7 linked regions of the Homo sapiens genome follow. The protein of the gene in region 6 interacts with the protein of the main gene of each other region in a biochemical or structural test. Each region holds a gene or a part of one and is shown on either strand. Other genes may lie near its edges. The genes, in order: ARHGEF11, SNTG2, ARHGAP21, DLG5, SNTG1, ADGRA1 and PTPN3.

The links.
Region 1: the proteins of ADGRA1 (region 6) and ARHGEF11 interact in a test that uses a peptide from one of them, tested with the Homo sapiens proteins (one large-scale study listed by IntAct).
Region 2: the proteins of ADGRA1 (region 6) and SNTG2 interact in a test that uses a peptide from one of them, tested with the Homo sapiens proteins (one large-scale study listed by IntAct).
Region 3: the proteins of ADGRA1 (region 6) and ARHGAP21 interact in a test that uses a peptide from one of them, tested with the Homo sapiens proteins (one large-scale study listed by IntAct).
Region 4: the proteins of ADGRA1 (region 6) and DLG5 interact in a test that uses a peptide from one of them, tested with the Homo sapiens proteins (one large-scale study listed by IntAct).
Region 5: the proteins of ADGRA1 (region 6) and SNTG1 interact in a test that uses a peptide from one of them, tested with the Homo sapiens proteins (one large-scale study listed by IntAct).
Region 7: the proteins of ADGRA1 (region 6) and PTPN3 interact in a test that uses a peptide from one of them, tested with the Homo sapiens proteins (one large-scale study listed by IntAct).

What each region holds. Positions count from the first base shown.
Region 1 is NC_000001.11:156,941,243-156,944,742, forward strand, and holds part of ARHGEF11 (rho guanine nucleotide exchange factor 11), read right to left. Parts: intron 3,192-3,500; coding exon 3,116-3,191; intron 2,861-3,115; coding exon 2,693-2,860; intron 1,539-2,692; coding exon 1,448-1,538; intron 748-1,447; coding exon 622-747; intron 192-621; coding exon 130-191; intron 1-129. UniProt on the Homo sapiens protein: May play a role in the regulation of RhoA GTPase by guanine nucleotide-binding alpha-12 (GNA12) and alpha-13 (GNA13). Acts as guanine nucleotide exchange factor (GEF) for RhoA GTPase and may act as GTPase-activating protein (GAP) for GNA12 and GNA13.
Region 2 is NC_000002.12:1,233,566-1,237,767, reverse strand, and holds part of SNTG2 (gamma-2-syntrophin), read right to left. Parts: intron 1-4,202. UniProt on the Homo sapiens protein: Adapter protein that binds to and probably organizes the subcellular localization of a variety of proteins. May link various receptors to the actin cytoskeleton and the dystrophin glycoprotein complex.
Region 3 is NC_000010.11:24,585,016-24,588,104, reverse strand, and holds part of ARHGAP21 (rho GTPase-activating protein 21), read left to right. Parts: intron 1-1,998; coding exon 1,999-3,089. UniProt on the Homo sapiens protein: Functions as a GTPase-activating protein (GAP) for RHOA and CDC42. Downstream partner of ARF1 which may control Golgi apparatus structure and function. Also required for CTNNA1 recruitment to adherens junctions.
Region 4 is NC_000010.11:77,818,524-77,822,725, forward strand, and holds part of DLG5 (disks large homolog 5), read right to left. Parts: intron 3,579-4,202; coding exon 2,559-3,578; intron 1,496-2,558; coding exon 1,372-1,495; intron 1,165-1,371; coding exon of another isoform or gene 1,082-1,164; exon of another isoform or gene 943-1,081; coding exon 798-942; intron 1-797. UniProt on the Homo sapiens protein: Acts as a regulator of the Hippo signaling pathway.
Region 5 is NC_000008.11:50,701,907-50,706,108, reverse strand, and holds part of SNTG1 (gamma-1-syntrophin), read right to left. Parts: intron 1,536-4,202; exon of another isoform or gene 1,510-1,535; coding exon 1,357-1,509; intron 1-1,356. UniProt on the Homo sapiens protein: Adapter protein that binds to and probably organizes the subcellular localization of a variety of proteins. May link various receptors to the actin cytoskeleton and the dystrophin glycoprotein complex.
Region 6 is NC_000010.11:133,086,435-133,091,185, reverse strand, and holds the start of ADGRA1 (adhesion G protein-coupled receptor A1), read right to left. Parts: upstream 3,263-4,751; 5' UTR 3,048-3,262; intron 2,479-3,047; 5' UTR 2,277-2,478; coding exon 2,274-2,276; intron 1-2,273.
Region 7 is NC_000009.12:109,421,566-109,425,767, forward strand, and holds part of PTPN3 (tyrosine-protein phosphatase non-receptor type 3), read right to left. Parts: intron 1,288-4,202; coding exon 1,153-1,287; intron 1-1,152.

The sequences.
Region 1 (3,500 bases), on a different chromosome or scaffold from region 6:
TCTACTCTTTATCAAAACCTCACACCCCGGGCCCTGATGGACTCTCCCATCGCCCCCATACTCACACCCAACCTGTGCCTACAGAAAAAGGCCTGGGCTGGCTCCCACAGGACAGTTCAGGGCCCTTACCTCCAGGCAGCTCCTCAGGTTCAGGTTCACCATGGAACACGTCTGAGTCATCCAGTTCTACCCTGAGGAAGGAAACCAACACAGGATGAGATCCCATGAGATTCCACCCTGGACTCATGCATTAGAATGGGCAATGGAGTAGGATCCGAGAAGGACGGTGTGGGCCTCTTCACCTGGCTGGTCTGCTTGGCAACCCAGAGAGGAGGGGGGCTGCTAGCTGAGCTTCTCTGGTCCCTTGCTCTACATCCCCCTCACCCTTCTTCAGGCTCAGCTCTATTATAGCCAGGTGGCAGGCTGTGGGGGAGCAGACAGGGACAAGAAGCAGGGACAGGGGGCATGTTCCTCCATCTGCCAGCACTTGGAGCTGTCTGCTCCCTGCTAGCATTTCCCTGTTGTGGCTGTCTACCCACGGGGGCGAAGGGCTTAAAAGCAGCAGGAAACAGGAGGTTTGGAGTGGAGAGAGTGCAGGGTCTGGAGGGCTAAGCACTGCACCTGCTGGGTGTGGGGCCCTGCTGGGCTGGCTCCCGGGGACCTGGGGGTGGAGGATGGACGGGCATTGGGGCAGCTCCGGGGTGCCTGGTGGCATTCCGCACGGCCTCTTCTAAGAGCTCCATCCATCTGTTGCTCGGCAGGAACAGAGAGGACTGTAGTGAGAGCAAGATAGCAGCACGCACCACCCCGTACTGAGCCCACTGGAACAGGGCTTCCAGGCCCTAAGAACCCTCTGCCTGGCAGGTGCCCACCTCCCTGTACAGTCCTCCCTGGCTGCTCCCTTGCGGTTATATTACTTGCAGCTACCAAATCCTGGACACCAACCCTCTGTTACACTCTGTGCAAAGCATTCTATGTTTTCCCTCTAAAGTAATCCTCTAACAGGTAGCATTAGCCACATTTTACAGATGAAAACCCTGGAGTTGGGAAACAGTCTGACTCAACCTGTCTCCTTCCACTGTACCATGCCACCTCTGGCAGCTGCTGTCAAAGAACATGGGCTGGGTGGGAGGCAAATGCCTGAGAAGGATGCATGAATCTAATCTGCCTAATGGTGAAGGGAGTAGGGCAGGAAGGAAAGAAGCAGCAGCAGCGGCTGGAAGACTGCCAGAAGCTCATTCTCCCAGAAGCGGGCCTGGTGACCAGGTCGGGGGTGATGACCCCTCCCAGCTTCTCTACTTCTGTCCTACCTCCCACTTCCTTCCCAACCCCTTGTCCAGGGACTGCTTTGGGGCCCAAACCTGGCCTTGCTACCCACTGTCCTCATAAACACCACCCTGGTCCGAAAGGGACCACAGTTACGGGTAACCCCTCAATCAATTCTCACGTGTTCTTGTCTGATGACGTCAATGCAACCAGCTCATAGATCTGGGGTGGGCCCAGCTTGGAGGTGCAGATGATGAAGAAGGCCCGTTTATCTGTGTGAGGAAAGGAAGGTAGAAGGGTCTGTACTAGGGATGGCAGGTGTGACTGCAGCCTGGGCCAGGGTGACAGAGTGGGACTCAAAGCCCTGACCCTCAACGCAGATGGAGAGTGCAGCACGAGACAGATGTGGATCTTCAGGACCACTTGGAACCCACTTACATAAGGGACAGAGGAAATTCCAGGACCCCTAATGTCATCTTCCACAGCCACCCCCATTCCTCTCCTGCTCTAATAACAGTGATGGCTGATAGGTGTATGGTGCTTAGGAGTTATAAAACTTTTTTTTTTTTTGAAACGGATTCTTGCTCTGTCACCCAGGCTAGAATGTAGTGGTGCCATCTTGGCTCACTGCAACCTGCGCCTCCCGGGTTCAAGTGATTCTCCTGCCTCAGCCTCCCGAGTAACTGGAATTACAGGTGCCTGCCAACATGCCTGGCTAATTTTTGTATTTTTAGTAGAGATAGGGTTTCACCATGTTGGCCAGGCTGGTCTTGAACTCCTGACCTCAAGTGATCTGAGTGCCTCGGCCTCCCAAAGGGCTGGGATTACAGGCATGAGCCACAGTGCCTGGTCAAGGGTTTATAAAACTTTTTCATACCCGTCATCCCTTTTGATGCCCACAAGAGGTAGGGTAGGTATCACTCCTATCTTACAGACGAAGAAAGTGAATCCAGAGAATTTTGCTCCAGAGCCCTTTCTCACACACACTACACTTCTCATTGAAATGTCCCTGTCCACTGGACCCAGCTCTGTACCGTGGGTACTAACATCTTCTGTAACCAAGCTCTGCCCAAGTCACTCTGTAGCAGAAAGGCTTGTCCTACTCATTCTGCCTAATCCCATTCTTCCCAATCCTGCTCAGACACTCTCACCCATCCTGGGTGTGCACATCCCATCCAGCACTGTGCTTGGGGACTGCTGACCACCCCTGTGCCAGGTTGTCTGTCTTCCTCTTGGTCCCCATCCTAACCCTCATCCTACCCCACTTTGGGCCAGTCCTACCACTTAGGCTGGGTCAGGACAGGAGGAAAGGAACACAGGTGGACAGGTAGGTCCTGTAAAGGCTCCAGACTGGCCCTGCCTCACCCAGCACTTGCTGGACATGGTCCCTGAGCCCCAGGCCAGCCTGGACCATCTCCCCAGGTACCTGTGGCCACAGAGCGGATGAGCACAGCATTGAGCTTGAGCACGGGGCTGAAGGTCTGCTTGCTGTCTGAGGAGCCCACAGCAGTCTTGCTGTGGCACTTCAGCAATAGCTTCTCATCCTGTTTCTGTAGCAGCACTAGGAGGTCCTCCAGCAGCAGCACGTGGAGGTCTGGAGGGGTATGGTCATGGGAAGGTGTTCCCTGGTGCCTACTCATCCCTCATGAGCACAATGCAGGGCCACAGGCTCTTGGAGGCTCTAGGAAGTCCTGGGAGTCTGGTGACCCCATTTCTCTCTCTGATTATTCCCTTCCCATGTCCTGAGCTATCACCTCCAGTCATGTTTCCATGCTTGGGAAAGACAGAAGAGCCCAGGGAGGCCCACCCACTACAGGTTCCTGCTCAGTCCCAGTCCCCTGGCACATACCCAAGGTCTTATCCTTGCTGATCCTCCAGGTCAGGGGTCCCTCATGGATCATTTTTCTGGTTGTAAGATCCAGGCTCTGTTAAGGAGACACCATTCATTCATTCATTCATTCATTCATTCATTCAAGTGTTTGAGAGCCTACTGTGTGCCAGACATTGTGTTAAGGTGCTGGGAATTGGTAAATAAGAAAAAGTCCTTGCCCTTACTCTCTTGTGCGGGATGAAGACAAGCAAAAAGGTAACTGTGAAGTCATGTGCCATGTGGCAGCAGGGGGATATACCAATGGCTCTGACTTGGGTCTCCCACCTGCCCCTACCACGTGCCAGCTACAGTCCCAAGAAGATCACATACTGCTTTTCCTGCCCATGCCTCCAGCTCTATTCCC
Region 2 (4,202 bases), on a different chromosome or scaffold from region 6:
ACCACTTCCTCAGGCGCCTCAGTACAGTCAGCAGGCTCGCTGAGACCAAGACCAAACCCCGAATTCCCTTGGTAACAGGAGCTACTTCTAATTCGATGAAACATGAAAAGCACTTTGTCAAGGAAAGAACAGTGCTCCTGAAATTCTGGAGTTATTGTCTGCAGGATTCTTACTGGTTATTCTTTCGAAGACCCTTTGGATGGAGCACTTAAAGCTCCTGATGGGGTGAGGCTGGAGCAGCCCAGCACCCTCTGCACTCAGCATCCACCCTTCTCTAGGACCACCTGTGTGCTTCTGATTGACAGGGGAGCTTTGGGAGAACATAGTCCCCTTCCACTGCTCCATGACACTCCACTTGCTGAGAACTCAATCATGGCAAAGTATTAACAACCAACCGTCTCAAATTCAGTAGTTCTTCCCTGTCATGCAATATTTTTTAAAAACATACTTTACATATGCCTATTTGCAAAAGAGAAATGTCATGTACACTTTTATAGACTTTTTCTTAAGAAAATAGTGCATATTGGCCGGGCGCAGTGGCTCACGCCTATAATCACAGGACGTTGGAAGACTGAGGTAGGTGGATCACTTGAGGTCAGGAGTTCGAAATCAGCCTGGCCAACATGGTGAAGTCCCATCTCTACGAAAAATACAAAAATTAGCCGGGCATGGTGGCACACACCTGTAGCTCCAGCTACTCGGAAGGCTACGGCAGGAGAATCTCCTGAACCCAGGAGGCAGAGGTTGCAGTGAGCCGAGATCACACCACTGCACTCCAGCCTGGGCAACAGAGTGAGACCCTATCTGAAAAAAAAAAGAAAAAAAGAAAACAATGCATATTAATGTATATGACTCATAATACCTCCATGGTCTCAAGCAGCTAACTGAAGATAAAATACAGAACAAAGCAAACATATTTTTTTAAAAAAATAAGTCATCACTAAGCTATGTTCTAATAATCTTTCAAATGTGAGTGTCATCGCTGCTTTCTTAGGCAAGGTGGGGTGTGTAGGAGAAGGGGTAGGAAACAGAGATGGTATAACACAGTTCTGCATATTTTTGAGCCAAATCTATCAGACCAGAGTTTGCTATTTTAAAAGTCATTCTTTTAAAAAGCTGACATCCCTGTCTAGGGGTCATTCTCATTCTAATTAGTGTTTCTTGAATCAGAATGTGAGGTTTATCTACTTGTGGCTGATATTCTGCCTGATGGCGATGAACAAGGTACTCTTGACTTGGCAGGAGGACAGAGGTGAAGGTGGAGGTGACTGTGTGGAGCCGGAGAGGGGAAGAAGCCAGAGGAAGCAGGTCCCCTGCATGGGGAGGGCAGGCAGCTCTGCCTCCACCTTCGCACAGCCCTTTCTGATCACCTTTCCTGGTCCTCCTGGGGAGCACCTGTCCCTCAGGATCCATCGCTTCCCGTGGGGCCTTTGGTCCTGGATGTCTGCTATAATAAATTAATTTTTACACTTCAAAATGCTGGGAGACTATTTTAGGCAGATTGTGTAATATTCCACATGAATTAGGTGCTTATTAAATATTGACAGACTTATATCTACACTTTTGTCCAAGTATCCATTAATTCTTATTAAAGTAAGTGCTAACTAAAAATGGGTTCATTGCCATCATTTCTCATTTGTTCATGTTAACTGGTGCGACATATACAAAGCAAGGCTGACCTTAATCTAGTGGTTAATAAACAGCTGGGTCAAGTAGATTATTGCGGACGACAGCCAAGTTCCCTGGCTCCCCACATGAAGAGGTCAGAGACTATTATTTTTAGGCATATTTTACATTGAGCTACAGGACACACACACACGCACACAACTCACCAGTGAACACCTCGATAAACAGTCATGTATTCCATACTCTTGGCCAACCAACTCTCAGACCAAAAACAGACTTTAGAAGAATCCTCAAAAGTTCCCTGTGTCCCATCCTCCAATTTTCCCCATCTCAGAGCTCTACGCTTTTATTCTTTCAGAAGAGCCTGTTCTTCTCCAAAGGCCTGGGGAGGAACAGGGGGTGGTGCCAGTGTGGGCCAGGGGCAGCTTTTCCTGGATCCAGCTAGACTAGGGGGCCTGCAGGGATCCTGGGGCAGCGTGGGGGTAAGGGTGCCTCCTCTCATGAATCGGGGGTGCCTCGTGGGGCCTGCAGGGACCTCAGGGCAGCGTGGGGCAGGGGTCCCCCCTCTCATGAATCGGGGGTGCCTGGTGGGGCCTGCAGGGACCTCAGGGCAGCGTGGGGCAGGGGCCCCCCTCTCATGAATAGGGTGTGCCTGGTGGGGCCTGCAGGGACCTCAGGGCAGCATGGGGTAGGGGCGCCCCCTCTCATGAATCGGGGGTGCCTGGTGGGGCCTGCAGGGACCTCAGGGCAGCGTGGGGCAGGGGTCCCCCCTCTCATGAATCGGGGGTGCCTGGTGGGGCCTGCAGGGACCTCAGGGCAGCGTGGGGCAGGGGCCCCCCTCTCATGAATAGGGTGTGCCTGGTGGGGCCTGCAGGGACCTCAGGGCAGCATGGGGTAGGGGCGCCCCCTCTCATGAATCGGGGGTGCCTGGTGGGGCCTGTAGGGACCTCAGGGCAGAGTGGGGTAGGGGCGCCCCCTCTCATGAATCGGGGGTGCCTGGTGGGGCCTGCAGGGACCTCAGGGCAGCATGGGGGCAGGGGTCCCCCCTCTCATGAATTGGGGGTCCCTGGTTGCGCGTGAGGGCGTGTGAAGGACACGCATGGTCACCGCTTGGCTCCAGCTCACATGTACTAACGACAGTGTCTTCTCAGGGAGTTGGCATTTCCTGATTCTCAGGGTTGGTGACGTATGCACCAAATGCATGGATGACTGAACACTGGGTGCTCTCAGCAGGGTCAGTACTGTGGTCATCCTCGTAAAGTCAGTGGTGAGAAGGAATCTGAGTCCAGAGTCCTAACTCTGCCTTTGGAGGTTTACACCATCATTGATGTAGCAGGAATAAGATGTGAGTAGAGACAGTGGACCCAGGCTCCATGAAGGACCCTTTATCGATGCTGTGGTCTTGAGAAAGATCATCAGCTTTGCCCCCTGAGGCAGTGAATGCACGTGGAGCCCCAGAGGCTCACGGACTCGCACGAGGGGCAGACGGCTGTGTCCTGCAATAAAAAGGAAGGCGTCTGCAGTCCAGGCACGTTTATGCCATAGCTTCATGAGGCAGGCTGGACATCTCACCTCTGAGCTGGGCTTTCCTTGTCCGTACGATGGGCTTCAAATGCCAACCGTACCACAAAATAGGAATACTGAGAGGAACAAATGGGATAACTGAAACAAAGTTATTTGTAAGCCCGTAAGTACCATATAAACATTATTAGTCTGTAATTTATCAAAGAAAGCAATAAAAATTAAGTATCAAATGAACAGAAACTGTGAAAGTTGTTGACATGAATGCTGATGGCAGATACTAACATGTTAATGAAACAGGGAAAGAAAGTTCACAGCGTGGCTCACTGTTGGTTCACTGTTTGGTTTATTGTTATAGAAGCCGGGTAACTAGTGTAAGTCACGCAATCTGCTTTCAGGCACGTCTGGATGCAAGATCAGGAGCCGCTTCTTCCAGGGCATTTCTGGGCCTTTGTTTCCTCCGAGTTTCACGGTTTCCTCCGAGTTTCCTCCGTGGCTCACAGTTGGAACCCGGCCTCTCTACCCGCCTCATGGTGGCCGCTCAGGCCTTTTAGGATGGTGTTCACGTGGCCAAGGTCATTATCGGAGCTAAAATTCACAGAGCATCTGCTGCTCAGGAGCTAACATGCTCTTTGATGGACACACATGAGATTGTAGGAAGCTGCTGTAAGCAAAGCCACACCAAGTGAAGGCAGAGCGCTTGGCACCCCGGGGTCCACCGAGAAGAAACCAAACCAGCTCCCAGACACTCGCCATCCATGGGGAAGTCAAGCACTGACTGTGTCGGCACTTTTGAAAAGTCTACCCTCCTCCCAGGGTTTCCTCGTGCCCTTAGAGAATTTTTCAATTCCAAAGAGAAAACTGAAAATAGACTTATACTCTAGAAAGTGAATCAATTCAGTTTTTGGCTAAGAGAAATAAATTTATTCCAATAACGTTCAAAGCACATGTCTTAACGTATTAGGACATTAAGGAATTGAAGTTACGTGCTCAGGTCTCCACCTCCTGTGGAGGACAGCCAGTCTGTTTAAGCCGTTCTTCCTGCGCTCTTGACT
Region 3 (3,089 bases), about 110 Mb from region 6:
AGGATCATTCCTTGCATTTCTTTGTCAAATCTCTTTAGACTTCTTTAATCTAGAACAGTTTCCTTAACTCTGTTGCCAGCAGATGAGATTTTAAACCAGAGAGACCTGTTTGAAATCCCTGCTTTTCCCTTCTCTAGATGCATTTTTCTTAACCTGTTATTACAGTAGCCTTTTCATCTTATCCATAGTGGTGTTATGCTATGCCTGTAATATAGTGGATATCCCAATGACATGATTAACTACTTCTAACAAACAGTCTCTGTAGAAAAGTAGAGTAATTTGCCTCAACACATATATGATCATAGAATTGTAAAGAGAACCTTAAGGAAATCTGAAAGACAGTATAATCTAATTGCTTCTCGCCACGGAACTGAGATGTTTAAAAGTGAATCCCTTGCTCGTACCCAGCAAGCTAGAGAGGATGGACATCAAGGTCTCCCAATTGAGAGCCCAGTCACAACCATTATCCCCTACAGTCTTCAGCACAATGTGGGGAAATGTAAATAACCATTAGAAATGTGCTGGATAATTATGAAAGTCTTTATAACTTGTAAAAACAAAGTTCTGTTCATCTGTGATTTCATCTTAGCGAATTTTTGATAGAACAGCCTAAATTCTTTGATAGAACAGCCTAAATTTTTACTTTAAGACTTTAAATAGAGCAGTTTTAACTTGTCTAAGATTTGCAGGCAATAGAGAAATATACTGTCTGTTTCTATTACTCAGCATACCTCCTGCCTACCTGCTTGTCTTAAAAAGTGTGTGGTAAACCAGCAGATATTTAGGAAGAAACTAATAGTTGCAATCAAGAACCTATTATATCTAGATGCAGTGGCTCATGCCTGTAAATCCTGGCACTTTGGGAGGCTGAGGTGGGAGGATAGCTTGAGACTAAGGCTTCTAGACCAGCCTGGGCAACATGGTGAAACTCCATCTTAAAAAATTTTTTTTAAAAGAACCTATTATACATAGCAAATAACTTTCCCAATAACACTGCACTACAGTGTTTCTGTGGTAAGGATTTAATTGTACTTATGTTAATTGATCTTTCCTTTCTACCTTCCTGGGGTGGGTTCTCACTCTGTCACCCAGGCTGGAGTGCAATGGTACCCTCATGCTCACTGCAGCCTTGACTTCCCCAGGCTCAGGTGATCCTCTGACCTCGGCCTCCCAAGTAGCCAGGACCACAGGTGCGTGCCACCATGCCCACTTAATTTTTTGTAGAGACAGGCCTTCACCATGTTCCCTAGGCTGATCTCGAACTTCTGGGCTCGAGCAATCTGCCCGCCTCAGCCTCCCAAAGTGCTGGGATTACAGGCATGAGCCACCACACCTGGCCTGTTTTTTGAATATTCTAATTCCATTGTTACCTTGAGATAAATGAAGACATTACCAACCTGATTTACTTAAGGCAGATCCTTGAAGATCCTGCCTGAATGAACTAATGGAAGACCAGAGTTCCCTTATCTCAATGAGCTTATCTGATACAGTATCTATATCATGTGGTACCTGTAATTAGAAAAATCAAAGTCAGTCATAAACATTTAATAACCTATATCAGAATGTGATGTTTAATAACCTATATCAGAATATGATGTTTGACCGTGTCACAATATTGTTTTACCTATCCCATGCCTCTATTCCAAATGAAGGAAGTGAAGAATGCCTGGGCACTGTGGAAGGAGGGAAGGTCAGGTGTTTGGGGGATTTTGATAGGAATCAGCACTAAGCACAGACTATTTTCCTGAAAGGCAGATGTGTATGAGCTGTGGCTTGGCAGTTAAATACCACGAGGCAAGAAATTGGACTCATTAAATAAAAATTTGACTTTGGTTCAAGGTAAAAAGAGGTATTAAAAAAAAAGCTAATTGCACTGTTAATGCTTCCAGAGCTTTAGTAGATATAATTTGATAAGAAATATTTGGGAGACAAGCTTGTCAGAAAATGAACTCAGCTGCATTCTTATGCTCAGAGTCTTTCTTCTCTCTTGCTTCCCAGGGTTCTTGGGGATCTGGAAAGGATCAGTATAGCAGGGAACTGCTTGTGTCCTCCATCTTTGCAGCTGCTAGTCGCAAGAGGAAGAAGCCGAAAGAAAAAGCACAGCCTAGCAGCTCAGAAGATGAACTGGACAATGTATTTTTTAAGAAAGAAAATGTGGAACAGTGTCACAATGATACTAAAGAGGAGTCCAAAAAAGAAAGTGAGACACTGGGCAGAAAACAGAAGATCATCATTGCCAAAGAAAACAGCACTAGGAAAGACCCCAGCACGACAAAAGATGAAAAGATATCACTAGGAAAAGAGAGCACGCCTTCTGAAGAACCCTCACCACCACACAACTCAAAACACAACAAGTCACCAACTCTCAGCTGTCGCTTTGCCATCCTGAAAGAGAGCCCCAGGTCACTTCTGGCACAGAAGTCCTCCCACCTTGAAGAGACAGGCTCTGACTCTGGCACTTTGCTCAGCACGTCTTCCCAGGCCTCCCTGGCAAGGTTTTCCATGAAGAAATCAACCAGTCCAGAAACGAAACATAGCGAGTTTTTGGCCAACGTCAGCACCATCACCTCAGATTATTCCACCACATCGTCTGCTACATACTTGACTAGCCTGGACTCCAGTCGACTGAGCCCTGAGGTGCAATCCGTGGCAGAGAGCAAGGGGGACGAGGCAGATGACGAGAGAAGCGAACTCATCAGTGAAGGGCGGCCTGTGGAAACCGACAGCGAGAGCGAGTTTCCCGTGTTCCCCACAGCCTTGACTTCAGAGAGGCTTTTCCGAGGAAAACTGCAAGAAGTGACTAAGAGCAGCCGGAGAAATTCTGAAGGAAGTGAATTAAGTTGCACCGAGGGAAGTTTAACATCAAGTTTAGATAGCCGGAGACAGCTCTTCAGTTCCCATAAACTCATCGAATGTGATACTCTTTCCAGGAAAAAATCAGCTAGATTCAAGTCAGATAGTGGAAGTCTAGGAGATGCCAAGAATGAGAAAGAAGCACCTTCGTTAACTAAAGTGTTTGATGTTATGAAAAAAGGAAAGTCAACTGGGAGTTTACTGACACCCACCAGAGGCGAATCCGAAAAACAGGA
Region 4 (4,202 bases), about 55 Mb from region 6:
TGCCCCTTTGACAAGCTCCCACGACTGTGCCTGGGTGCCCTGGCCTTGGCACCGATGGCCCTTCTCCCTGGAGGCTCCAGCCCAGGTCTTGTGCAGCTGGCCTCTTTCATCCTTCTGGTCACAGCAGCATCCCCTCTGCCACAGGGCCCTTCCTGACCACCCACTCTAACTTGCCACCCTCTTCCAAGTTACAGCCCAGCCTGTCACCCTGTTTGACTGCCTTCATAGCCTCTTGGCACCATCTGATATCACTTCGTTCATTTTTTTTTTTTGTCTGCCTCCCACATTTGAAAAACCACACGACATGAGCTAGAAGCTAATTTGTTTAGTTCAGCAATGTATCCTCTTATAATTAGGATAGACCAAGGCATGTAGTAGGTGCTCAAAAAATATCTGTCAAATGAATGAATAAGAGTGGCTTGGAGCCAGCCCACCCTCTTATGAAGTACCAGTTTCCTCATCTTCAAGACAGAAACAGTAATAGGACTTAGCCCATGAGGTTGCTGTTGATTCGGTGAAATGATATTCATAAAGGTCTGAGCACAGTGGCTGGGACATAAGCACTCAAACATCAGCTGCTATCACTATCGTGTCCTTCCAGTACCTTTTGAAACCTTGTGCTGATGAATTCAGAAAGCAGCCCTAAGGCTCCCTTTCCCTGTGCTGCTCTAGCCAGTCCCCTCCCAGGCAGGCAAGGAAGCTTCTCCACCAATGAGCCTCTTTATGCACTCATGGTTCCATGTCCAGGCAGGCTTGGGCAGCTGGAGTACAGAGAAGCGTAGGGTGCCTTCACATACCTGGGATGCAAACCCTGGGGGCCAGCATCTCGGGCCGCAGGTGGAGAGCTGCAGGGGCCGACCCTGTGACTGCGCACAGTGTAGATGGGGTTCCGCAGGATGGAGCTCACAGTGGTGCTGGGGGTCAAACTCCGGGGAACAGTGCCTAGAAATGGGCTTGGTGAGAAAAGACGCCCCAAAGGACCCAGCCAGCCCAGGACTTACACAAGCCTTTCCCCTGTATCCCAGGACGCAGCCGCAGTCTTTTGGGAAAAGGACTTGGGAGATGAGTTTTAACCACCAATTCACAATGTGGCTGTGGCTCCTGGCCTGTCTCCATTTGTAAAAAGGGGGGAAGTCTCTTTCATGCTTCCTATTTCCCAGGTTGCTATGGGGAGAAAGCATGTTGACAAGCTAAGACATGTCATGGCTATAAGACAAACCATCCCAGACAGGACAGCATTTCCCAGTTCTCTGGACCTCAGGGCTGAAAACACATGGCAGCTCTCTGAAATGCTGCCTCCCCTCTCCCTGGAGACTAGGCATCCCGAGTTTACACCGACCCTCAGCCCCAGCCCCTGGCTGGCTGACTCACCCACAGACGGCCTGCTAGGGTATAGCGGGGGGTTGCTGTGCCGGCTGGAATGCCCAGGCGAGTAAGGTGCCCACTCCTGGAGCTCCGGGGAGAGTTCTCCACTGGCCGGGACACACTTCTGTTCCTGCAGATGCAAGGGCAAGAGTGTCTGCTAGAAAGAGTGGAGTGTGGCCAGGCGCAGTGGCTCACACCTATAATCCCAGCACTCTGGGAGGCCGAGGCGGGCAGATCACCTAAGGTCAGGAGTTCAAGACCACCCTGGCCAACATGGCGAAATCCCGTCTCTACCAAAAATACAAAAATTAGCTGGGCATGGTAGTGGGTGCCTGTAATCCCAGCTACTTGGGAGGCTGAGGCAGGAGAATCGCTTGAACTCGGGAGGCAGAAGTTGCAGTGAGCCAAGACTGCACCACTGTACTCCAGCCTGGGTGACAGAGTGAGACTCCATCTTAGGGGAAAAAAAAAAAAAAAACCAAACAGTGGAACGCTTGAGCAGCTCTGCAAGCCAGTTTCTGCCCCCCAGGAACCAGCTCCTCCCACTGGGGCACAGGAAGGGACATGAATGGGAACGCTGCCCATTCATGTTGCCTTACACATCTTCAAGGAAGCAGCTTTACTTCAGAAGAAAACCACAGAGAATGAATCTTTCACAGAGATCACGTAAAAGGTGAGAATGCACAAGTGCATCAGGCACGTACAACTCTGCCCGATGTGGAGGGCTGTGCGAAGCTCTTTGTCCCCAGTGAGCAGTGTGGACTGGTGCCTGAGATGCTTTCCACAGTCCCCAGCAATCTCACCCTTCTGGAAACTATGACAGCACACGCAATCAGGCCGTCCCGCTGCCCACTCAGCCTCACACGTGCCACCTCATCTCCCTAGCCCTTCAAGGCAAGTCTATGCCCTAGGTTTTATTGTGTAAGTTCAAAAGCTTCTTATTAAAAAAGCAAACCAAATGCTATGCCCAATAAAGTGTTCCCCTCTTGTGTCACACTCCCACTACCATGCACTTCCACGCCACTTACCTACCTCCTAGCTGGGCCACTTCCCACTTGAGTCCAACAGCAAAGGCAAAGGCACCAGGCTAAACAGGGGCCTGGGACACTGGTGCAGGGCCACTTAGCAGCCCTCCTTCGGCCAACTGCCCCTCTCTAGGCCTCCCCTCCCCACACCCTGGGGCTCAGCTATACCTCCAGGAACTGAGCAGGAATCACTACTGGAGCAAGCTTCGGCCGAAAACTGGGAGCAGATTTTGGCCGGCGACGCTTCTGCCCCAGCTCATCCACCTTCTGGGAGGTGAGGTCCTCATCACAGGATTTCTTGGCCGGCAGGTGGGAGGAGTCCCCATCTCCTTCAGGGTAGTAGCTGGAAGCAATGCGGACCCTGGCCTTGCGAGGGGGTGATGCGTGCATGGGCTCCCCGGGGTCCACGTCAGGGGGCAGGGCGCTCGGGGGACTAGTGGATGGGGAGCTGCCCACCAGAGTGGCTTCTGACTCGGAGCTAGTCTCCAGCCTGTGCTGGAACTTAATGGAGTCGCTCCTTCTGGGAGGTTTTGGGGGTGTCAGAGGCCCCGCCCTCTTGGAGGGCTGGGGAGAGTGAGCAGGCCCAGGACCTGGAAGCAGGTAGTCTATTTTGGGGGGTGTCTGGGGGCGTTTGAAAGTGTTAGGGTCAAAGATGGACTTTCTTTGCTTTGGCTTTTTATAAACAGAGAGCTTCTCAGGCACTGCCGTGGAGCTGAGCATGGCCTTGGGCCAGGTCCCGCCGCTGTTGGAGCCTTCAGAGTCTGCCTTGTCCAGGGAGGCCTCCCCAACCCCACAGGGGCCCACCTCGGTCTCAAAGGGCAGCAGTGGCCGCCGGCCACGCACGTCCACCAGCCCAAAGCCACGGTCCCCAGAGGCATCTGAGCGGAAGGAGCTCAGGCTACGCTCAGAGGCACTGGGACAGGCCTGGGGGCAGACCTGCAAGGGTCCCCCAGGGAATGGCTTATGCAGAAAGGAGCTGCTGCCTCCTGGGGGGCCTGGCTCCTTCCTGTCTTCCAGCCTGTCCGTGTAGAAGATGTCTGTCTGCGTGGAGTTATTGTGCTGTATCAAGTTCCGTTTGTTATGAGCCTGGACCTCCGGGCCATGGGCTCGAAAACTCAGCATCTTATCAGAGTCTTTGATATTTTCAAAAATGTTCTGGCCACTCCACGAGGAGCTCTGAGGGAATACCTAGGCAGGGATTGCAGAGGAGTGAGAGAGAGAGTGAGATGGCAGGACTTGGAGCTGCCACTGAAAACCATCCCCAGAGGTAAAGCAATGGTCAGGAATGGGCCACCTGCCCCTTAAAAAAGAGACAGATAGACAGAGATGCACACACACATGAACACATATGCTTCTCCCTAATGGATAAGTTTTCTCATGGCTCTGGTCACTCTGAACTCAAAGAAGAGTCAAAGTTTTCTTAACTTTGAACACTTTCTGAAATTATCTGGGCCGGGCACAGTGGCTCATGCCTGTAATCCCAGCGCTTTGGTAGGCTGAGGCAGGCGGGTCACGAGGTCAGGAGTTCGAGACCAGCCTGACCGATATGGTGAAACCCCATCTATACAAAAATTACAAAAATAAGCCAGGCACGGTGGCATGCACCTGTAGTCCCAGCTACTTGGGAGGCTGAGGCAGGAGAATCGCTTGAACCCGGAGGTGGAGGTTGCAGTGAACTAAGATCACGCCACTGCACTCCAGTCTGGGCGACACAATGAGACTCTGTCTCAAAAAGAAGGAAATTACCTGCATAATGTCTTGAATATTTTTTTTAAATATTAAACATAAAAGTAAAAATTCATTGTTAAAAAT
Region 5 (4,202 bases), on a different chromosome or scaffold from region 6:
TAATGTCATACTGGTACAACTTGATGTGTTGATTACAGAGGTTTGTAGTCAGAAAATAGAAATCAGTTCAACATGTTCAAAATATATGTATCCAACAATCCTGTTTTACGCAAACATTCCAGTATAGTCAATGCTAGATTATTCACCACATTTGTTTTCAAAATTAAGTGTCCATGTGTGTATTTAGGTCCTTGCTCTATGGATCTATTTGCATGTGGCAAGCGCATGAAAACCTTTTAATTTGTCCACAGGTCTGTTTGAGGTCAGCCACAGGACCAACTTTGGGAGGCTGTTTTGTTCAATGGTCTTGTGAAGACAGAAGCTGAGGGCTCTATAAAGTTTGATCTAGTGTATAACTTCACACTTAAGAAACAAAGTTCAATAAATATCTGTTGAATACTCATGATGTGCAAAATGCACTGGACTTTGGTTGGCACATGATAAGATAATTCCAAACAACCTATAATTTAGTGCAGGGAATAACAAGCACATGTCACTGCAATACAAAACAGACTGAGTGTGTGCAATCCTTAAAAAAAAAAGACAAATAAATAGAAGAATCTTATAGATGCTGCTATAAATAAGTAGAAAACACAGTATAAATTTTATCACTAAACTACACTATTTTAAAATCTATTTCCTATATTGTATTTCTAATCAGATGTATTACTTTTATGATTTTTATTGTTGTATGTGTTAATGACTTCATGTAAAAATGTAATTGCTTTTCATGAGTAGTATGAATACAATTGATTAGTTTGTGTTTTCTTATCTGTAAAAAAACCAGAAAAGTACATTATATTGTGTTCAAAAGTGAGAAGAAGAGTTGTTTGAACAGGATAGTTGTAGAAGGAGTATTGGCAAGCATTAGGCAGGGTGGACTGGAAATCAGGGACATGTTCCTGGATGATATGACCTTTGATAAAAAGTCTCAAAAACTCTGTGTGGCTTTGAAGGATGGAGGCAAAGGGAAAGAGCATTGTGAGTAAATGACGCCAACAGGCTGGAAATTAGGAGGTCATATTTGGAGAACAGGAAGTGACCTTGTCAACAATTCATTAAATCAGAGTATTTTCTATATTAGATTTAAGTCAGAGTAATGTCTAATTAAAATTAGAAATATATTTTTAATTAGTAGTAGGAAATAGCCTGGAAAGATCAAGTCGTGGAAAAATTAAAATTTTATTCAGAGCTGTATTACTAGTCACTAAACAAAAATGGCTAATTATAGAATGTATATGAGGTCAAGATTCCCAGAACTGTATTTTTACACTACTTTGGAATGATATTAGAACTCTAGGGAAGTGGTCATGCATCTGAGGGAGCCACACATCCTGCAGTCCCACAGACTCTCACCTGTATCCGTTCTACTTCTAGAAAGGTTGCTGTCTGGAAGGCTCTTTCCCACTGGGCGAGGTCACTTTCCAGCTCCACTGAGAAGTACAGGTCCTCCCCAGACTCAGACTGCACGGTGAAGCACTGTTTCCGTCGGTCCAGCAGGTCACTGTCCTGGTGAAAACCTGGAGTTACACAGGCTGGCACACATCACTTCACATTGCTAACCTGGCCATTCCTGACTGGACCAAGGTGCAGAAGCCACAGGTAAAAAGACAACACTCTGCGAATTCACCAAGTCTTCATTAGACATTATACCAGAACTCCGGGCTTCAAAGCCCCAACACATGACTTCTCTGTCTTTACACTGAAGCATGTCCATAAAATAGAAGTTAGGGTTTCTGGCTTCATCTCTTACTAACAATATAACCACCAAAGCATTTAACATACAAGACTTGGTTTATTACTCTACAAAGGGGTGACACACTATCTCTTCCCTTCCTTACATAACTGTTATGATGTTGAAATTAAATAATGCTTGTGAACATGTTTGTAAATTTTAAGGAACTTTATAAGCAAACCAAAATATTCTTCTCCATGAGAAATGAAAAAGAAAATGAGTCTAATTTGTCTACAGCAATAATATTGCTTAAAAAAAAACGCATTATTTACCTTACTTGTGTAACTGTATTTCATTGTATCAAAAAAACGACTTTGATGCTGGCAATTTCTTGGTCTTACCAGAAGTTTTCAACTGAAGTGTTCACAAATTTACATATATTCCAATTTAAGAGACATTAACATGAGAAAAAAAAGTGAAGCAAATAATTTATGAAACAGAGTAACCCAATGCAACATGTCAGATATAGCATTTTAAATACAGTCATGTGCCGCATAAGGATGTTTGGGTTAATGATGAACTGCATATGCGACGGTGATCCTATAAGGTTATAAGGGAGCTGAAAAATTCCTATCCCCTAGCAATGTCATAGCCGTTGTAATGTCATAGAGCAATGCATTACTCTTGTGTTTGTGGTCATGCTGGTGTAAACAAACCTGCTGTGCTGACAGCTGTGTAAGTCTAGCACATACGATTATGATGTATGCTACATAATAATAATGATGATAAGAAAGAATATGTTACTGGTTTATGTATTTACTGTATTATAGTAATACAGTAAATATTACTGTATTTACTGTACTCCTATTTTTTTAGTGTACTCCTTCTATTTATTAAAAATATAGTTAACTATAAAACAGGCTCAAGCAGTTCCTTCAGAAGGTATCCAGAAGACGGCATCATTATCATAAGAGATGACAGCTCCATGCGTGTTATTGCCCCTGAAGACCTTCCAGTGGGACAAGATGTGATGATGGAACTCATCCTGACTATATGCAGGCCAAGGTTAATGTGTGTGTTTCTGTCTTATTTTTTATAAAAATTTTAAAAAGCCAAAAATAAAAAAGTAATTTGTAAATTTAAAAGTAGAAAAAAAATGTAGAGAATAAGGATATAGAATAATTTTGTACAGCTACATAATGTGTTTGTGTTTTAAGCTAAGCACTTCTACAAAAAAGGCCAAAGTTGAAAAAATTAACTTTGTAAAGTAAAAAATGTTACAGTAAGCTAAGCTTAGTTTATTATTGCAGAAAAAAATACTTCTTATAAATGTAGTGTAGTCTAAGTGCTCAGTATTTATAAAGTCTATAGTGCTGTATAGTAACATCCTAGGCCTTCACATTTACTCATCACTCATTCATTGACTCACCCAGAGCAACTACCATTCTGCAAACTCCATTCATGGTAAGTGCCCTGTATCTGTGTATCATTTTTTTTTTAAATCTTTTAGACTGTACTTTTACTTTACTTTTTCTATGTGTAGATGTGTTTAAACAACTACTTACCATTATGTTACTTTTGCCTACAGTATTCAATACAGTCATATGCTATACAGGTGTGTAACCTAGGAGAAATAGGCTGTACTGTATAACCTCGCTGTGCAGTACGTTATGCTGTCTCAGGTTGTGCAAGCAAATTCTGTGGTGTTTGTACAACAGTGGAACCATCTAACTGAGAGGCATTTCCTGAAATATATCTCAGTTATTAAATGACTGTATATATGCTATATCTATGCAGTGTACTGAAAATTGTCAAAGGGTTAATCACTGGTATCTGTAATCATTTCTCATAAGGAGGGATGTAAGTGTATCATTATTAAACACCCAAAATGTTAGATGGAATTCTCTGCTTTGGCAAATGTTTAAAAAATAATAACTATTTTCATTGTTTCCTGCTTGCATTCTTATAATTGCTGGAAGAGAGCTAATGGAAGGCATTTACTTCCAGGGTTGTAGAATTTAGCTCTGACCCTTGCTGCCAGTAGATGCTCAGAAAGCTAAAAGGATGATAAATGCTGTGCTTATTGATTTTCCTACTCTGTCTGAAGGGAGAAAAAAATGAAAACATAATATGTTTGAGAGTACAATCTAATGATAAATTATAAATACTTTTTAGTAGTTTTGGGGTTATAATATCTATGGAGGGAACAATGAGAGATAATAACTACACAAGTAAATATATTAGTACAAATTATTGTAAATGCCATTATAAAAAAAATAAGAGGCTGGGCGCAGTGGCTCATGTCAGTAATCCCAGCAATTTGGGAGGCCGAGGTGGGCAGATCACTTGAGGTTGGGGAGTTCCAGACCAGACTGTCCCACATGGTGAAACCCCATTTCTAATAAAAATACAAAAATTAGCCGGACATGGTGGTGCATCCCTGTAATTCCAGCTACGTGGGAGTCTGAGGCAGGAGAATCACTTGAACCTAGGATGAGGAGGTTGCAGTGAGCCAAGACTGTGCCAC
Region 6 (4,751 bases):
GCCCTCGAGAACAACTGTTCTCTGAGTTAAGTGTGAGGACTGCAAGTTACAGGGTGCGAAGTGACACCTATTTCATTTCGGAGCCTGCTGGAACGTAAGTCCTGATAGCACCCCTTGCGGAGACAGGCAAGTTCACATTTGCTTTTGCTCGTTAACAGTGGTGACGGAGACACAGCTTGCAGAAGGAGGTGCCCCAGCTTTAACCACTGGACAGGTGGCCTGCAGGTCCTCCAGAGGGGAGCAAACTGTCCATCCTGTAGAGCACCATGGGCCGACAAACCAGCCTTTTGAGAGGACGGCCTGGCCCAGCCAAGCTGCTGGACAGCAGCTCAGAATCCAGGGCTGACTCATGCCTTTGTGCCTGGCCAGGAGCGATGCCACCAAAGAATCTGACCTGTGACCTGTGCCCTATGCCCTTACACTTGGGAGCTCAGCAGGCAGCTTGCCCCTGGCAGGCGTCAGGAGCCCCCCAGAGCACAGCAGTGGGGCAGGCAGAGTCAGGGCCACCCTGCCCTGGCCACGGCCTCCAGGCTTCCTTCTCAAGACCCCATGGCCATGGGGTGAGCCTGCCCAGGTATCTACGCTGTGAACTTGGAGACACGTGCTGTGAATTACGCTGTCACACTACGCTGTGAACTTGGAGACACATGCAGAAAAATGCTGCACCAGACTGATGCAGCACGGGAGGGCAACTCCTCACACTTTCAGAGATTTTCTCAGGTGCAAATGTTACTTGTTGTGAATAAAAACAGTGAGCTGCTGAAATGCCACACTCTCCAGGCAGATCGAGCTCAGCAGGCTTTCACAGTCTTGGGTGAGCAGGAGCTCTGGGCTGCCAGGCCGGCTGGGACCGGGTGGCCCCGGGCCGAGGAGGTGGTAGCAGGAAGCTCCACCAGGAGCCAGGAGCTGAGAGGAGAGTGCACGAACAGGCTCAGCCTGCGAGGGGTGGTGCCCTTCTTGGATTGGGGAGGCCCCCGCACAGTTGTTCGCAGAAGGGCCAAGGGTTAGAGAGGAGGAGGCGAGGAAGGGGATGAGAGGGACCCCCGGGCTGCGGCAGCACCCCCACCTTCAGAAGCCCTTCTCCGTTCACTGTCCTCTGTCAATGACAGTTTTCCATTTTGCAAATAAGGGTCTCAATTTGAGGCTGAAAAGCCACAGATCCTGCCAACTGGGAGGCCTGGGGCTGCGCTGGGTGTGGTACCTGCGGGGCAACAGCGATGGTTCCTGAGGCTGGTGGGAGCCTGGGGGCAGGCAGGAGCCCTGGGGCTGGCCTGCTGCCCCCTGAGGTGCTGCTGGTGCTGGAGACGCAACCTTGTCAGGTGTCTGAAAGGTAAGTGCGGAGACCTCAGCCAGCCTCAGAGGTGAAGCAGCCACTGGAAGACGATACTGAATGTTGGCAAAGGCATCTCTCTTGCTTGGACATTTCGAACGGAACAAGAAGAAAATGAGCAAGTGACTCAGACCGATGGCTCCTTATGCAGCGAACACTGGGTCTGCTCCGAAGCACGCCAGCCGGCGTCTGTGGCGGCCGCACATTCTAGAGGCCATTGGCATTCTCTGCACGTGCCCTGGGTCCTCACCGCCTGTCAGCTGTCCCTTACCAGCACACACAATGCATTGTTCACTCAGCTGTCAGCCCTTCCGGAACCCAGACATTCAGCAACTGCAGCAAAAGCTTGCTGGTGCCTCAGGGAGGGACCCACGATGGGCTCGGCTAGCCGATCCAGCCAGCTGCCAGCCACGAGCCCCTTCCCGCTGAAACACCCTTCCCGTGCCTGCCGTGTGCGCGGCCGCCTTCTCTCCGCCACAGCCTCCACTGCTGAAGCCCACCTACGTCTGTCCGCACTGCCTTTCATCAACTTTCTAATGGGAAGGGGCCGGCAGGGTGGCGTGGAGGAGGCCGGTGACCAGGGTGGAGGGGCTTGGGGTGGCAGGGACCCCAGCCCAGGCACAGACCAGGTTTTCACAGGGCACGGATGCCAGCTTTGCGGGAGGGACGTCGCCTCCATTGATTAAATGATTCCACATTGCCATATGCCTGCAACTCATTAGTATGATCAGCACCCAGCACGCGGGGAGCAGAGGTGCCCAGACACGCGGCCTGTCCCCGGCCCCCACTCCACAGAGCCTCCCACCCCGGCACTGAGCCCGGAAGCCCGGTCACCAGCTCGCCATTCCACAACTTTTCCAGCCTGGGAGTCCCCATACGGGTGGCCGCCCCCCCGCAGCGGCCTAGCCCCCAGCTGCAGGACCCCCGGGACCCCCGTACTCACCATGAGCGCTGCAAAGTTGCGGAAGCGTGAGCGCCGCTGGAGGAGGCGTCCAGGGGGAGGCGATCAGGTGGCGCCCTGCTCCCCGCCAGCCTCCATGGCCTCTGGAAGGTCAAAGTCCCAGACGGCGGCCAGGAGGTCGCGCTCCCGGGCCCCTGGCCTCAGGGTGACCGCGGCGGGGCGGGCGCAGTCCGGGAGCTGCTCCCATCTGTGAAGACAGCGGCGGTCAGCGGGGCGGGCGGAGGGTCCCCGCGGAGGGCAGCTCGCAGCCCCGACCCCGCCAGGGAGCAGCCGCGGCCCCTGTCGCTCCCTCCCCTCCGCGGGCGGCCTGGGGGCTGCGCCTGGGGCTGGCGGAGGCGGTGCCGGTGGGGACCGGTGGGGGGCTCGGACCGAACGCGCCAGCGGCAGATGCGTCTCCTTCTCCATATTTAAAAATCAATCTGCGCCCCACTCCCGGCTCCGGAGCCAAACTCAACCATCTCGGGCTGCACAAAGCCAGAGGCGCGCCGGGGGGTTTGCACCGGGAACCGGCACCGAGTGACCCGCCCGCCCCAGCCCGGCCGCGGCGCCTGCTCTGCCTGGATGTGGCTCGAGCTCCGGGCCGGGCGCGCGGGGCGGGGGCCCTGGATTATCCGTGGCGCCTCCCGCCCCAGCGGAGCCGAAAGTTACTCGGAGCTGCTTTCCTCGCGGCCAGTGTCACCTCGGGGCGCGAGCTTTTCTGCCGAGCCGCGGCCCCGCGCGTCCCTCCCGCCGCCCAGACCCGCGCGTCCTTCCCACCTGCTGTGGCCGAAGCGGCTGCCGGGGCGGCCGGGCCGCGCTCCCGGAGACAGACGCGCTGCGCTCCCCCCGCCGGGGACCCGCTCTCCATTCGCGAGGGCAGCGGCCGAGCTGGGACCGAGTTATCAACAGATTGCGGGGCTGCGGCGCCGGCCGGTGAGTCACAGCCCCGCGCACGAGCGGCCCAGCCCGGCCAGCAGCGCCGCCGCCTCTGCGCGCACCTCCCGCGGCGACAGCGGGGACCCGGGGCCGGAGGCAGGCGCGTAACCATGGGGACCGGGGCGGGCGATGGCGGCGGGCGGGCTCCTGCCGCAGGGTGGGGATGGCTCTTCCAGCCGGGCGGCCGCCGTCACACTGCAGAGCGTATTTAAAGAGACACCTCGCTCCGCGCTCGCTCCCCAGCACCAGACCCTCGCCCGAAAACGCCGCCGGGCGGACTGCACGACCCTGTGTTATTCCCAAAGACAATCTCCATCCGTGGAGAAGCTGCAGGAACAGAAATATACACAAGAAAATGGATTTGGAAGGAATTTTCCATCCTTTATTTAACATTCTCAAGTCCAGATATGCCAGAACCGAGGTGCACCTGTCGTGAACCCGTCTGAGTGTGAGTCAGCAGGGCAGCCGCAGCCGGTGTAGACAGACAGGGCCTGTGGCTGTGCAGAAAGCGTCCCTGTCCCCCTACCCCAACCCTCCTGCATCCTGGGCCACAGAGCTGGGCATCCAGAGCCAAGGCGAGTGTGGAGGCCAGGGTGCCAGGGGCGGCGCAGCCCAGCCTCCCACCCGCAGCGAGGTTTGGGCTCTGCACACATCCCACAGGTCCCTATCCTGCCCCAAGGGGCCTCCTACCCGACAAGGTGGGTCCAAGTCCACTCCAGTTTTCGTCACAAACTCCGTTTTCTGGGGCACGTGCTGGCCTGGTGGCAGCCTCAGCAAGAGTCTCAGGAACTGCCCTGGGGGACTCCACACCCCTCCACCTGTTCCCCCTTTGGCCCTGGGTGACCCCACACCCCTCCACCTGTTCCCCCTTTGGCCCTGGGTGACCCCACACCCCTCCACCTGTTCCCTCCTTGGCCTCCACCCTTGCATGGCTACTTCTGCCCCAGGTTCTGTGACACTGGCGCCTGTTCAGGGGGTCCCCAGGCCCTGCTGCCATGGATTTTGAGGGGCCTGAAGGATGTACTATTGGGAGGTTGTCATGAAGACTCACAGAGGCAGAATTAGATGCAGGGGTGACAGCGTTCCGCTTCCCCGGCCTCTCATTATGGGGCTTTTGAGCGGGATGTGCTCAGGGCCCCACTGCCCCATCTAGCTGGTGTTCCCAGAGCCCCTCTGTGGGGACACTGTGCTGGTCCCTGAACTCCAGCTGAGGGACACAGGGTCCAGGCAGGCGACGGTCTAGTTCCCAGCTGGAGACGCTCTAGGCACCCCAGGACCTGGCCGCCCTGACTCCCTGGACACCGTTCCCTTGGAGCCTCGGAGCCCCCCCTGGTGTCCCCTGGGTGATGGTCCTGGACAAGAGGGCTGGGAAGAAGCGGGCAGCAAGGGGAGGATTCTGCCCCAGACGTCCCCAGGCCGGGGGTCCCCATGGGCTCTGCCCTGACGTCTTACTCCTGCACCCAGCGGCTCCCACCACAGAGACTGCTCCAGGTGAGGGTACCACACTGAGCACAGGTCAGCCTGTGTCTCCCGGGAGGCTCCTGG
Region 7 (4,202 bases), on a different chromosome or scaffold from region 6:
CCTGGATCCAGTCCTGGGCTCTCTGGGCCCCTGGCATTGCTGCCGATGAGATTTTCAGATAAATTAAGCTGCTGTGTTATAGCATAAATTTACCTCTTTAGAATGAGGTATCTAAATGTTGGAAACCAAGAAGCAAATCTATTCAGTTACGTCATGATTTCTAACACTAAATACTATCACTGTCCCTTCCCAGAGCATTAGGCCCCCAGTGAAGGGGTCCTTCCCTAGCAGGCCCAGCACAGCATCTCCTCTGTCTGCCTGTCTCCCAGTTTCTCTTAGGCTTAGCAGATCCTGGATCAGGTATTTACAGCCACGCACTCTTACTCCAGTGTGGAGCTGGGGGCAATGATTCCCTGCTAGGTTTCCCCTCTGGCCCCTAGCCTTTTTGGAGGTATTCACAAAAATGGTGTGATGTCTTTGAGGACCATTATAATAAGATAATGATAATTCCACCTGACTCTTTTAAAAGCTTACTACGTACTTGTACATTATTATTTCATTTGCGGTAGTTTTTATCATCTTTTTAGATATGGGGAAACTGAGGCTACAGAGGTAAAGAAACTTGTTAATTAACAGAAGGGCCAAAACCTGAGTTTAGGTCTTTCTGCTACAAACCCAGTGCCCTTCTCACTTTACCAAACGACCACCTATTTCTTTTTAAGCTGAGTCCATCCTCTTAAGTTGGCCTGCTACTTACTGATGTGCATTTGCTTCTGCTGCTGAAGGTCATACATCCTTACATCATTTACATCACGTACCTGCGTTAGTTTTCCCTAAAGTTTATTTTGTGGGATATTAATGGAAAACATGAATTAAGTAAAGCTAACCGTACTTTTTTATTATTGGACGTCTCAGAGTGTTTAATATGCTAATGTGTGCTGTGATTCCAAAGGAGGCCTTTCAGCAGGCTCGAGTTTCCCAAACTATTTAGATTGAATAAGTTTTTTTAAAAAGAGCATCTCAGCATTATACACGATGGAAAACATTTAGCTAGACTTGTGTACTTCATGAAAACAGTTACTTCTGCCAAGAGCCTAAAATGCAAATTGTAGGTCATCTATCTTTAGGAGTTTATAAGTTGAGTTTTTATTTTTAAAAGAGATAAAGTGTCTACTGTTGGGTAGTACAAAAAAAAAAAAAAGGAGGACATACCAGTTGGGAGTAATGGGAGGGGAACGAGAAGGCAGACTCTTGGTTTCTAAGTGCTCCACTGATAAGGATCTCCGCATGGCTGGGTTCCACACCATCCCGCCAATCACCTTTTTGCAATATTGGTTATTTACCGACCTGAAAAACCAGATGCAGGTTCACTTTCTACACTGACGTTCAACAGGAAAGAAATTACTGCATGTGTGAAACAGTCTACACATGCTTCTTGTCTGAAGGACGGCAGGTTAATGCCAAGGTTATGGGGAGTAGAGGGAGACAGCTCAAAAGCGATTCCTGTCTGTCCTGGAATTTCCTTATGTGATTTCTTCTCTTCGGGTGAAAATCCTTTCTTGTCCTCACTACTCAAGCAACAAAGCTGTTTCCAGAATATAACCAAACCTAACCAGATTAGAAGGAATTCCAGGATCACACAGAAATACAGCTCCAGTGATTTCAAGGAATTCTTATTTTATTCACACTGGCCTAAGTAAAAATATTAACCATTTTTTCAGGTGCTCTTCATCATCCTAGCTGGCAGGAGCTGTCACTATAAATCACTGGTAAATCTTTGAGAGAGAATCTGAAAATGCGCTTAGAAAGTAGTTTCAAACTGGGCACAGTGGCTCATGCCTGCAATCCCAGCATTTTGGGAGGCTGAGGCGGGTGGATCACTTGAGGTCAGGAGTTCAAGACCAGCCTGGCCAACATGGCAAAACCCTACCTCTACTAAAAATACAAAAAATTAGCCAGGTATAGTGGCGCATGCCTATAATTCCAGCTACTTGGGAGGCTGAGGCATGAGAACCCCCTGAATCCCCGAGACAGAGGTTGCAGCGAGCCAAGATCGCACCACTGCACTCCAGTCTGGGGAACACAGTAAGACTCTGTCTCCAAAAACAAAAAATTATACAGAGTTTCAGGCTACGTTCTTTGAAATGTGCTACCCTGAAGGTTACTTTTGAATTTTATTTATACCTAGAGAATTTAAATCTTAGCTATCTAGACCCCTCAGAGAATGAATTATTTGAGAGAATAGAGCATGAAGCCTGTCACCCTGTTAAAGGGTGACAACTTTGGTTCTGGCATCTCTAAATTTTAAACTAGGATTTAATGTCTTATGAAAACATTCTACACATTTCCTTGTGACATGACATCAACCAACCAACAAAAACAAAACAGAACAAAGAACAAACAAAAGAACATAAACAATATGAATCGCCCTGTAGCACATCATGTACTAATTCACATTAAGAAATGCTGTTGTCACCCTGATCAAAATGCTCACAACAGCATCACTGGGAGACTCTTTCCTCTGAGGCAGGCCTACATCAGAAACCACACTGCCAGTGATGAAGAGCACAGGATCAAAACAAGGGGAGCAAACTGCCCAACTCCAAGGTTTAATGTGTCATGGGTTATTAATAGGGACTCTCTGAAAAAAAAGTGTTCCATTGTCCCATAAGCTTGGAAAATAACCCAACAAATTTCTTTTTATGTGGAACCTTTCAGAAGGCCCAATAAGCAGATGTGTATCTGTATCTCTAGGGGCTGGGCAAGTCATGTGACCCTTCTAAGCCTCAGTGTCCTCATCTGTAAAATGGAGGTAATGAGACTTGAAATTCACCAGTATGCTGAAGCTGGCACAGGTAGTAAAAGAACTGCTGACTTGTCCTCCCAAGCCATCCTCCCAACCCAAATGATCCCCTGTGGCAGATTAAAGATGACTGCAAGTTCTTTGAGTCTTGCATCTGGGTTGGCTTGTGACTGCTTTCAGCAACAGAGTCGCTGTGCCAGTGCCAGGTCTCACCCTTAAGAAGGCTGAACGGTTCTGCCTTTCGCTCCTGGAACCCTGAGTGTCCATGTAAGAAATTCAACCACCCTCCTGGAGTATCCAGATGGGGATGCTAAGGAGTCCAGGTGAGTCCAGCCTTCCAACCATTCCATCAAGACACCAGGTATGCAAGAGAAGTTATCTTGGATCCTCTGGCCACATTCACTGAGAAATCCCTATCTACACCACACAGAGCAGAAGAGGCCTCTGGCCAAGCCCTTCTAGGATTCCTGACTCACAAAGTCATGAGATATAACAGAATGGGTGTTGCTTTCAGTCACCAAAATAGGGGTATTTTCTTGTGCCACAATACAAGACCAGAACCCAGCCCTGCTGGCATTGGATGCATGCAGATGACAAAGCTTTGCAGATGAAGAAATAGAAGCAACAAATTAAAGCTCAAGTGACAGAGGCAGGATTTGAACCCAGGCAGCTCAGCAACAGAGGGCATGGTTTCAGTTGCCTCCCCATTCCTTCTCTCATCTGGCCTGAGGATCAGGCCCAACCTAAGTCAATGATATAATCCAGTAAGTTATTTTCATGGCTTGCTCAACAGTAGATCTACTGAATGTATACAAATACTAAACAGTATTATAAGAGCTAAAAACTTAATATATTCACTCTTGGTTCATCAGAAGCTGAGAGATAGCATTTAGCACCACAAATAGTATCACTGATACTAACAGAAATTAGCTACTTATTCAGTTTACAAGTTCCCTAATGATTATCAATGTATTAGGAAAGTAACTGGAACAGTCTGATGCAGTTCCACCTATCAGAAAGATAATGGCTCAGACACGGGTCTCATTTAGTTAGTAATAGCCACATCAACAACAAATCACGAAAACAATTTTGAAAAACCAACAAATGATTTAGAAAATATGGCCTGGCACGGTGGCTCATGCCTGTAACCCCAACACTTTGGGAGGCCGAGGCAGGCAGATCACCTGAGGTCAGGAGTTCGAGAGCAGCCTGCCCAATGTGGTGAAACCCTGTCTCTACTAAAAATGCAAAAATCAGCTGGGCGTGGTGGTGGGCACCTGTAATCCCAGCTACTTGGGAGGCTGAGGTAGGAGAATTACTTGAACCCAGGAGACAGAGGTTGCAGTGAGCCGAGATCACTCTAGCCTGGGCGACAGAGTGAGACTTCGTCTCAAAACAAAACAAAACAAAAAAGAGAGAATAGGCTGGGCACGGTGGCTCATGCCTGTAATCCCAGAAC